Regions from separate parts of the Homo sapiens genome. Here all the other regions are linked to region 3. Evidence: fine-mapped expression QTL. A gene starts in region 3. Each other region holds a variant in brackets. All regions are shown on one strand. Distances are from middle to middle.

Region 1 (2,759 bases), 300 kb before region 3:
CCTGTAATTCCAGCACTTTGGGAGGCTAACGGGGGGGCGGGTGGTGGATCACTTGAGGCCAGGAGTTCGAGGCCAGCATGGCCAACATGGTGAAACCACATCTCTACAAAAATACAAAAATTAGCTGGACATGGTGGTGTGCGCCTGTAGTTCTAGCTACTTGGGAGGCTGAGGCATGAGAATCGCTTGAACCCTGGAGGCAGAAGTTGAAATGAGATTATACCACTACACTCCAGCCTGGGTGACAGAGTGAGAATCTGTCTCAAAAAATAAAACAATAAAAAAAAATAAAACAACATGGTTTCCCTGTTTGATAGATGGGGAAACAAGTCCCAGAGGTTAAGTGACTTTCCCAGTGAAGAAAAGACAGAGCTGCCACTTGTACCCAGATTGTCTGGATCCTAAAATCAATAGCCTAAAAAGATAATAATTTGCCTCTTACACCCCACCAAGAAATTCTGTTCAATTCTGTTGAGCTGAGAGGGAAGAACAGGGAGACTGGAAATATGAAGAAAGGGGAATGGCCCCAGAGGATTTCCCTGTGTGAATTCAATTTACCTTTATTCAGGTGGGAGATTATAGGTTATATAACCACCCCCAATATAAAGCAATCTCTTCCCCGATGACACTCAAACCCGGAAAACTTGAATCCCAGGGTGTTCAGATTTTGGTATAAGCTGATCTCCCAGGACCTACTTAGGCAGGATCTGGTGCCCAGGACAGAACCTGTTGACCTGGCACCATGGAGCTGGGAGGGGCTGTCACCATCTTTCTGGCACTCCGCTTGTCTTGCCTGCTCATCCTCATTGCCTGGAAACGAATGGATAAGGCAGGAAAGCTGCCCCCAGGTCCTACACCAATTCTTTTCCTGGGGCACCTGCTGCAAGTTCGAACTGATGCTACGTTTCAGTCTTTCATGAAGGTGAGTCTGTCTGTCTCCTTTAATAGGGCTAAAAGCAACTAATCCTATAGCCAGATTCACATAGAAACTTATGACTTCTAAAAGATAGACTCTCAGAAACACAGACTTTGCAAATCTTAGAATTCTGAAATTCCAGAATCCTAAAATGTTGGAAACACACATTCTCAGTGCATTGAAATAAGATTTTCATGATCTCAGGACTTTGGAATCACAGTACATTATATTTTTAAACACAGGATTCTTTGACTCAGCTTGTCTTAGCACTTTGAGACTTGGTATCATGAAGTCTTAAGATTCTAGAAATTTAACATTTCAGAGAGAGAAGTATGAATCTTGGAATTTATCGAATCCAGGTCCCTTATTTTGGAGATGCAGACAGTAACTCTTGTGGGAAGGGATGAGCTTTTGCCGAGAATGACAGAAGCCAAGACTTCCGTGCCTCTTTCCCAGTATTCCTTCCAAGCCCAGATTTACCTTGGTTCCTTAGTACCATGTTTATATCCCTCTAAAATCGCCATCCTCTAAAATCCTCAACTGGCCTATGCTTGG[T/C]ACTCCAGTCAGCCCCTCCTCTTGTGTTTTCCTTCACTCCAAGCTCAGGGAGAAATACAGCCCTGTGTTCACTGTGTACATGGGTCCCGGCCAGTGGTGGTTTTATGTGGACACGAAGCAGTGAAGGAAGCCTTGATAGACCAAGCGGATGAGTTCAGTGGCCGTGGAGAACTGGCTTCAATAAAGCAAAACTTCCAAGGTCATGGTAGGTAGCAACAACAACAAAAACAATAAAACCGGAAATGACTGCAATGCACTCCCTATATGCCAGGTTCTTTGGTAAGTAGTCCACATGACTTACTGTATTGACTCCCTTAGGAGAGCTGTTAACATTATACTAATGTTGTCAATGAAAAAGCTAAGATAGGCCAGGCATGGTGGCTCATGCCTGTAATCCCAGCACTTTGGGAGGTTGAGGCGGGCAGATCACCTGAAGTCAGGAGTTTGATACCAGCCTGGCCAACGTGGTGAAACCCCGTTTCTACTAAAAATTTAAAAAAAAATTAGCTGGGCATAGTGGTGGGCACCTGTAATCCTAGCTGCTCAGGAGGCTGAGGCAGGAGAATCACTTGAACCCTGGAGGCGGAGGTTATAGTGAGCTGAGATTGCACCATTGTACTCCAGCTTGGGCAACAAGAGTGAAACTCTGTCTCAAAAAAAAAAAGAAAAAGCTAAGATAAAGGTTAGATAATGTCACACAGTAAGTGGTAGGATAATTTTATTTTGAGCCTATGCCATCTGACTCCAAACTGTTTTCTGTGTTATTTCTGCTCCTATTTTTAATGGATTAGTGAGATATATATATATATATATATATATATTTTTTTTTTTTTTTTTTTTTGAGACAGTTTCACTCTTGTTACCCAGGCTGGAGTGCAATGGCATGATCTTGGCTCACCACAACCTCTGCCTCCTGGGTTTAAGCCATTCTCCTGCCTCAGCCTCCTGAGCAGCTGGGATTACAGGCATGCGCCACCACGCCCGGCTAATTTTGTATTTTAAGTAGAGATGGGGTTTCTCTATGTTGGTCAAGCTGGTTTCGAACTCCCAACCTCAGGTGATCCACCTGCCTCAGCCTCCCATAGTGCTGGAATTACAGGTGTGAGCCACTGAGCCCGGGGGATTAGTGATATTCTTTATGCACCCATAGCCAACCCTCATACCCCTTATAGCTAACCTTATTTCTCATCTTCCTATACTTATACACATACCTAACCCATAGGTCTCTGCCTCCTTCACTTAGGTAGATCTCTTTCTCTCATGCATCCATCTCTAACTGCCCACATCC
Region 2 (2,759 bases), 630 kb after region 3:
TCTGTCACCCAGGCTGGAGTGCAGTGATGCTGGCCCACTGCAACCTCCACCTCCTGGATTCAAGCAATTCTCCTGCCTCAGCCTCCCAAGTAGCTGGGATTACAGGTGTGTACCACTACGCGCAGCTAATTTTGTAGTTTTAGTAGAGACGGGGTTTCACCATGTTAGCCAGGCCGGTCTCAAACTCCCAACCTCAGGTTATCCGCCCTCCTCGGCCTCCCAACTTGCATTTTTAATGGCTAATAATGTTGAGCATCTTTTCATGTGTTTATCTGCATATTCTTTTTGCTGAAATATCTATGCGGGTCTTTTCCTTTTTTTTTTTTTTTTTTTTTTTTTTTTTTTGAGGAGTCTTACTCCTGCCCAGGCTGGAATGCAGTGGCATGATCTTGGCTCACTGCAACCTCCACCTCCCGGATTCAAGCCATTCTCCTGCCTCAGCCTCCCTCGTGGCTGGGATTACAGGTGCGTGCCACCACGCCTAGCTAATTTTAGTATTTTTAGTAGAGAAGGGGTTTCACCGTGTTGGCCAGGCTGGTCTCGAACTCCTAACTTCAAGTGATCCATCCACCTCATCCTCCCAAAGTGCTGGGATTACAGGCGTGAGCCACCATGCCCAGCCTCTTTTCACATTTTCTAATTGGATTTTTTTTTTTTTTTTTTCTTGAGACGGAGTCTCACTCTGTCACCCAGGCTGGAGTGCAGTGGTGTGATCTCGGCTCACTGCAAGCTCCGCCTCCTGGGTTCAGGCCATTCTCCTGCCTCAGCCTCCCGAGTAGCTGGGACTACAGGCGCCCACCATCACACCTGGCTAATTTTTTGTATTTTTAGTAGAAACAGGGTTTCACCGTGTTAGCCAGGATGGTCTCGATCTTCCTGTGATCTGCCCGCCTCTGCCTCCCAAAGTGCTTGGGAGGTACCTTGTGATCCACCCACCTCGGCCTCCCAAAGTGCTGGGATTACAGGCATGAGCCTCCACGCCCAGCCTCTAACTGGATTTTTTAATGTTGAGTTTTGAGCATTCTTTATGTATTCTAGACACAACTCCTTGGCTGGATATCTGATTTGCAAATATTTTCTCCCAATCTGTATTTGTCTTCTTTTTCTCTTAACAAGGTCTTTCACAGAGCAGAAGATTTTAACTTTGATTTAAAAATTCATCAGTATTTCTTTTATGGATCGCATTTTGGGTGTCAAGTCTAAGAACTCTCTTCTTTCACTTTGTCGAAAATTAACGCACATACCTGTGCACACCTATTTCTAAGTCCCCTATTCTCTCCCATTGATATATGTGTCTATCCCTCAATCAGTCCCATGTTGTCTTGATTACTATAACTATATAGCAAGCCTTATGAGGAAGAGTGATTTTTCCCATCTTATTATTCCTTTTCCAAATGATTTTGGCTATTTTAGGGCCTTTCCTTTTCCATATAAATTTTAGAGTAAGCTTATCTAGGTCTATGAAAAAAAATTGCTGACATTTAGCTAGGAATTGCATTAATGTAGATCAATTTAGGGACAATGAACAT[C/T]TTTACTGTCTTGAGTCGTCCAATTCATGAACACATGTCTCTCCAAGTATTTAGTTCTCCTTTGATTTCGTTCATCGGCATTTTGTAATTTTTATCATATAGTTCCTGTACATGTTTTGGTAGAGTTATGTCCGAGTATTTCATTTTCTCTGGAGCAATTGTAAGTGGTACTAGGTTTTTATTTTGGTTTCCACTAGTTCATTGTCTGTATACAAAAATGCAATTGAATTTTGCATGTTGATCTTGTATCTTGTGACTTTATTGAACTCACTTATTAGTTCTAAAAGATACGTTTTTGTAAATTCCTGGAGATCTTTTACATAGATAATCAAGTCATCTTCAAATAGAGACAGTTTTATTTATTATTTTCTTCTTCTTTTTTACTTTTCGAGACAGGATCTCACTCTGTAGCCCAGGCTGGAGTGCAGTGGCACAATCTCTGCTCACTGCAGTCTCAACCTCCCAGGCTGAAGCAATCCTCCTACCTCAGCTTCCTGAGTAGCTGAAACTACAGGCACATGCCACAGTGCCTGGCTTTTTTTTGTTTTTATTTTTGTTTTCTTTTTTTTTTTAAGACGGCGTCTCACTCTGTCACCCTGGCTGGAGTGCAATGGCGTGATTTAGGCTCACTACAAGCTCCGCTTCCCGGATTCACGCCATTCTCCTGCCTCAGCTTCCCGAGTAGCTGGGACTACAGGCGTCTGCCACCACATCCGGCTAATTTTTTGTATTTTTAGTAGAGATGGGGTTTCACCGTATCAGCCAGGATGGTCTCGATCTCCTGACCTCATGATCCACCCTCCTCGGCCTCCCAAAGTGCTGGGAGTACAGGCGTGAGCCACCATGCCAGGCCGCCTGGCTTTTTTTTGTAGAGATGGGATCTCATTATGTTGCCCAGGCTGGTTTCAGACTCCTGAGCCCAAGCAATCCACTCACCTCGGCTCTCCAAACATCTGGGACCGCACCCAGGCATGCACCACTGCACCCAGCCTATTTCTTACTTTCTTTCTTTTTTTTTTTTTTTTGAGACACAGTCTTGCTCTTGTCACCCAGGCTAAAGTTCAATGGCACGATCTTGGCTCACTGCAACCTCCACCTCCCAGGTTCAAGCAATTCTCCTGCCTCAGCCTCCCAAGTAGCTGGGATTACAGGCGCCCACCACCATGCCTGGCTAATTTTTGTATTTTTAGTAGAGACAGGGTTTCGCCTTGTTGGCCAGGCTGGTCTTGA
Region 3 (2,710 bases):
CTTTTCCAAGACCTTGCAAGATGGCCCCTGCAGACTTCATGAATCTTATCTCCTACATTCAATCTTTGAAAATATAACAAATATTTATTGAGTGCCTACTGTGTGTCAGGCACTGCACTATATGTTGGGGATACAGCAGTGAACCAAACCTACAATAATTCATGCACAAATGGTTCTAACATTCTTCCTTCTCAAGAAGCCCATTCCCCTGGCAGGCCTTCTCACTTCCTGAAATTGTTTTCATCTCATCTTCATCTGCATGTGGATATGAGCTCAGGAAGGCCAGAGCCCTTCTCTCCATCGCTCATAGCTGCACCCTCGGGTCTAGAACAAGGTCTTGTTTATAGTAAGACCTCAATAACAGTTAGTTGCAGAAATATTAGCTAACATCTATTTAGTGCTTGTTACATGTGCACCTGCGTCTGCTTTAAATGGTGTGCACAGATGTACTATTTAATCCTGAAAACTAGCCCCATTTTACAAGGCTAACAGAGGCACAGAGGAATTAGGCTGTGAATTCAAGCAGTCTGGCTTCAGCCATCACGGTCCTAACCGCTCTGCAAACTGCCTCTAAACGAATGAATGAATGACTCAATCATTCTAACTGGCCCAAGTCAAAATATTAACTCTGCCACTCAGCCAAGTTGACCTGGGGCCAACCGATTTATCTCCCTGGACTTCAGATTGTTTATCCTTAAAGGTCAAGTCCTTCCTCTCAGTTCGTGAAGATGTAAGATGCTGGAGAAAATTGACTCAAAGACACCCCATACACGCACGCACACAGGAACCCACATCCGAACAATGAGCGAGGTAGGAGCTGGGGAGAGTGGCGCGGGGTCACCGCCAGATGCGGGGTGTGGCAACCTCCAGGCGGCCAAAGTCTCTGACTTCCAGGTTCTTCTGTTTGCTTACTCCCTATCCGGGGGCCCAAGGCGCTGTCTCCGCCGCCCAAGCCCCGCGTAAACCTGGGTGACCTCGGAGACATCCGTTGGAGCATGAGTTCCCGACATCAGGCGGCGGCGGTGGTCCGGGAGAAACCCGGCGGCGGGGAGATAAGCCTGCCCAGGAGGCAGGGGGCTGGGCTAGCTGCCCCGCCCCGCGCCTGACTTCGTTGGGGAGGGAGACGCCCGGCTCCCGCCCCTAACTAGCCCAGCCGCGCGGAGCGCCTGGGAGAGGAGAAGGAGCCGACCTGCCGAGATGGAGGCGACCGGCACCTGGGCGCTGCTGCTGGCGCTGGCGCTGCTCCTGCTGCTGACGCTGGCGCTGTCCGGGACCAGGGCCCGAGGCCACCTGCCCCCCGGGCCCACGCCGCTACCACTGCTGGGAAACCTCCTGCAGCTACGGCCCGGGGCGCTGTATTCAGGGCTCATGCGGGTAAGGGGCTCTGGGGACGTCCTGGCTAGGGGTGGGAGGATTCCTGGGAGAGAAACCCGAGTGCCAGGGTGAGGGGCTTTTCGGGTATCCTAGGGAGGAGGCAGGGGCAGGGGTCCCAAGGCAAAGGGGCTGCTGCTGTCCTGGGGTTGGGGGCAGGAGCAGGTTGTCCAGGGCTGAGAAGGGGAGAGGTGCCCGGGAGAGAGGATCGTGGGGTGGGGGACCAGGGCTAGGAGGGGCAGAGACCTCTGCCTACAGAATCCTGGGAAGGTGATGGGCAGGGACCGAGGCTGAAAGAGACAGGAGTCCTCCAGCCGAGGAGAAGCTGATGCAGCTGGGCTTGTCCCAGAGGGAGAGGTAGCTGGAGCCATACAGGTGGGGCATGCTGAAGAGGGCACAAAGAAGAAAAGGGGGAGGCGTCCCTGCGGGGAGTTGGAGGCAGAGAAGAGGCTGGAGGGTTGCAGGCTCAGAGAGGGGGTCCCGCTGAAGGAATCTGCCAGCAGAGAATGCAGGATGGGAGGATGGGTGGAGCTCAGTTGGGAGTTCCTGGGACTGGGGAGGAAGGAGAGCAAGAAAGAAGGCAGAGGCAGCCCCAGCCTTAGGGGATAGCAGGTGGGAGTGGGCAGAGGCCTGAAGTTTCCCATTCAAAAGGATTCTGGGTGACTTCAAGGACGTAGAAAAAAGGGTGGGGTCTTGGGGGAGAGATGGGGCGGATACTCAGCAGTGTCTGCTCCAGAATTTCAGGGTTTTGTGGTGACTGAAAGGGGTGGCTGGATATTTGGGGGGCAGGGAGGGCCCTAAGGAATTAAGGGAGACCCAAACTGCTTCTGGATTGCCCAGCGTCAGAGGTTAGGGTTCAGCAGGAAGCAAGGGAACGACAGGAAGTTGGGGGATGCCACTGAAGGATGTACTGGGGGAGGAGGCCCGGGAGCCTAGTGCAAAAAGAGAACTGAGCCTCAGCTATTTCTGCTGGGATGGGGGCAGGTTCCTGGTAGAGGGCGTAGAAGCTAGACCCGGTGGCTCCTCAAGTGACAGGGGCCATGATGGAGACACCTTGGATCGAAGAGGTCACAGCACCCTCCTCTTTCTTCCTCCCTACCCCCAGCTGAGTAAGAAGTACGGACCGGTGTTCACCATCTACCTGGGACCCTGGCGGCCTGTGGTGGTCCTGGTTGGGCAGGAGGCTGTGCGGGAGGCCCTGGGAGGTCAGGCTGAGGAGTTCAGCGGCCGGGGAACCGTAGCGATGCTGGAAGGGACTTTTGATGGCCATGGTAAGTCAAGGGCTGCTAGGCCCTCCGCTCACAGCCTGCCACCACTTACTGGTGTGTGACCTTTGCAC

Alleles and levels. Positions count from the first base shown, and alleles are read on the strand shown. Sizes are in standard deviations (SD) of each study's normalised expression. Not every link is listed here.
In carriers of allele C in region 1, the expression in subcutaneous fat of the gene that starts at base 1,152 in region 3 tends to be lower than with T alone (large effect, 1.2 SD a copy in TwinsUK).

What was found. PIP is the estimated chance that this variant, and not a neighbour inherited with it, causes the effect.
Region 1: its variant is fine-mapped to the expression of CYP2S1 in subcutaneous fat (TwinsUK, PIP 0.95).
Region 2: its variant is fine-mapped to the expression of CYP2S1 in coronary artery (GTEx, PIP above 0.99).

The regions. Positions count from the first base shown.
Region 1 is chr19:40,890,477-40,893,235 of GRCh38, forward strand. It overlaps the pseudogene CYP2G1P. Among named protein-coding and RNA genes, the nearest start is that of CYP2A7, 9.6 kb to the left of the region's middle. The variant T/C (reference allele first, on the strand shown) is at 1,472.
Region 2 is chr19:41,817,311-41,820,069 of GRCh38, forward strand. No RefSeq gene overlaps it. Among named protein-coding and RNA genes, the nearest start is that of CEACAM3, 22 kb to the left of the region's middle. The variant C/T (reference allele first, on the strand shown) is at 1,530.
Region 3 is chr19:41,192,068-41,194,777 of GRCh38, forward strand. CYP2S1 (cytochrome P450 family 2 subfamily S member 1) reads left to right here and starts at 1,152. Exons shown (of 9, transcript NM_030622.8): 1 at 1,152-1,374; 2 at 2,477-2,642. The coding sequence starts at 1,198. It overlaps LOC124904790, which reads right to left and starts at 985. Exons shown (of 3, transcript XM_047439802.1): 1 at 913-985. The coding sequence starts at 985. RefSeq lists enhancers at 678-1,178, 2,489-2,710 and a silencer at 1,091-1,180.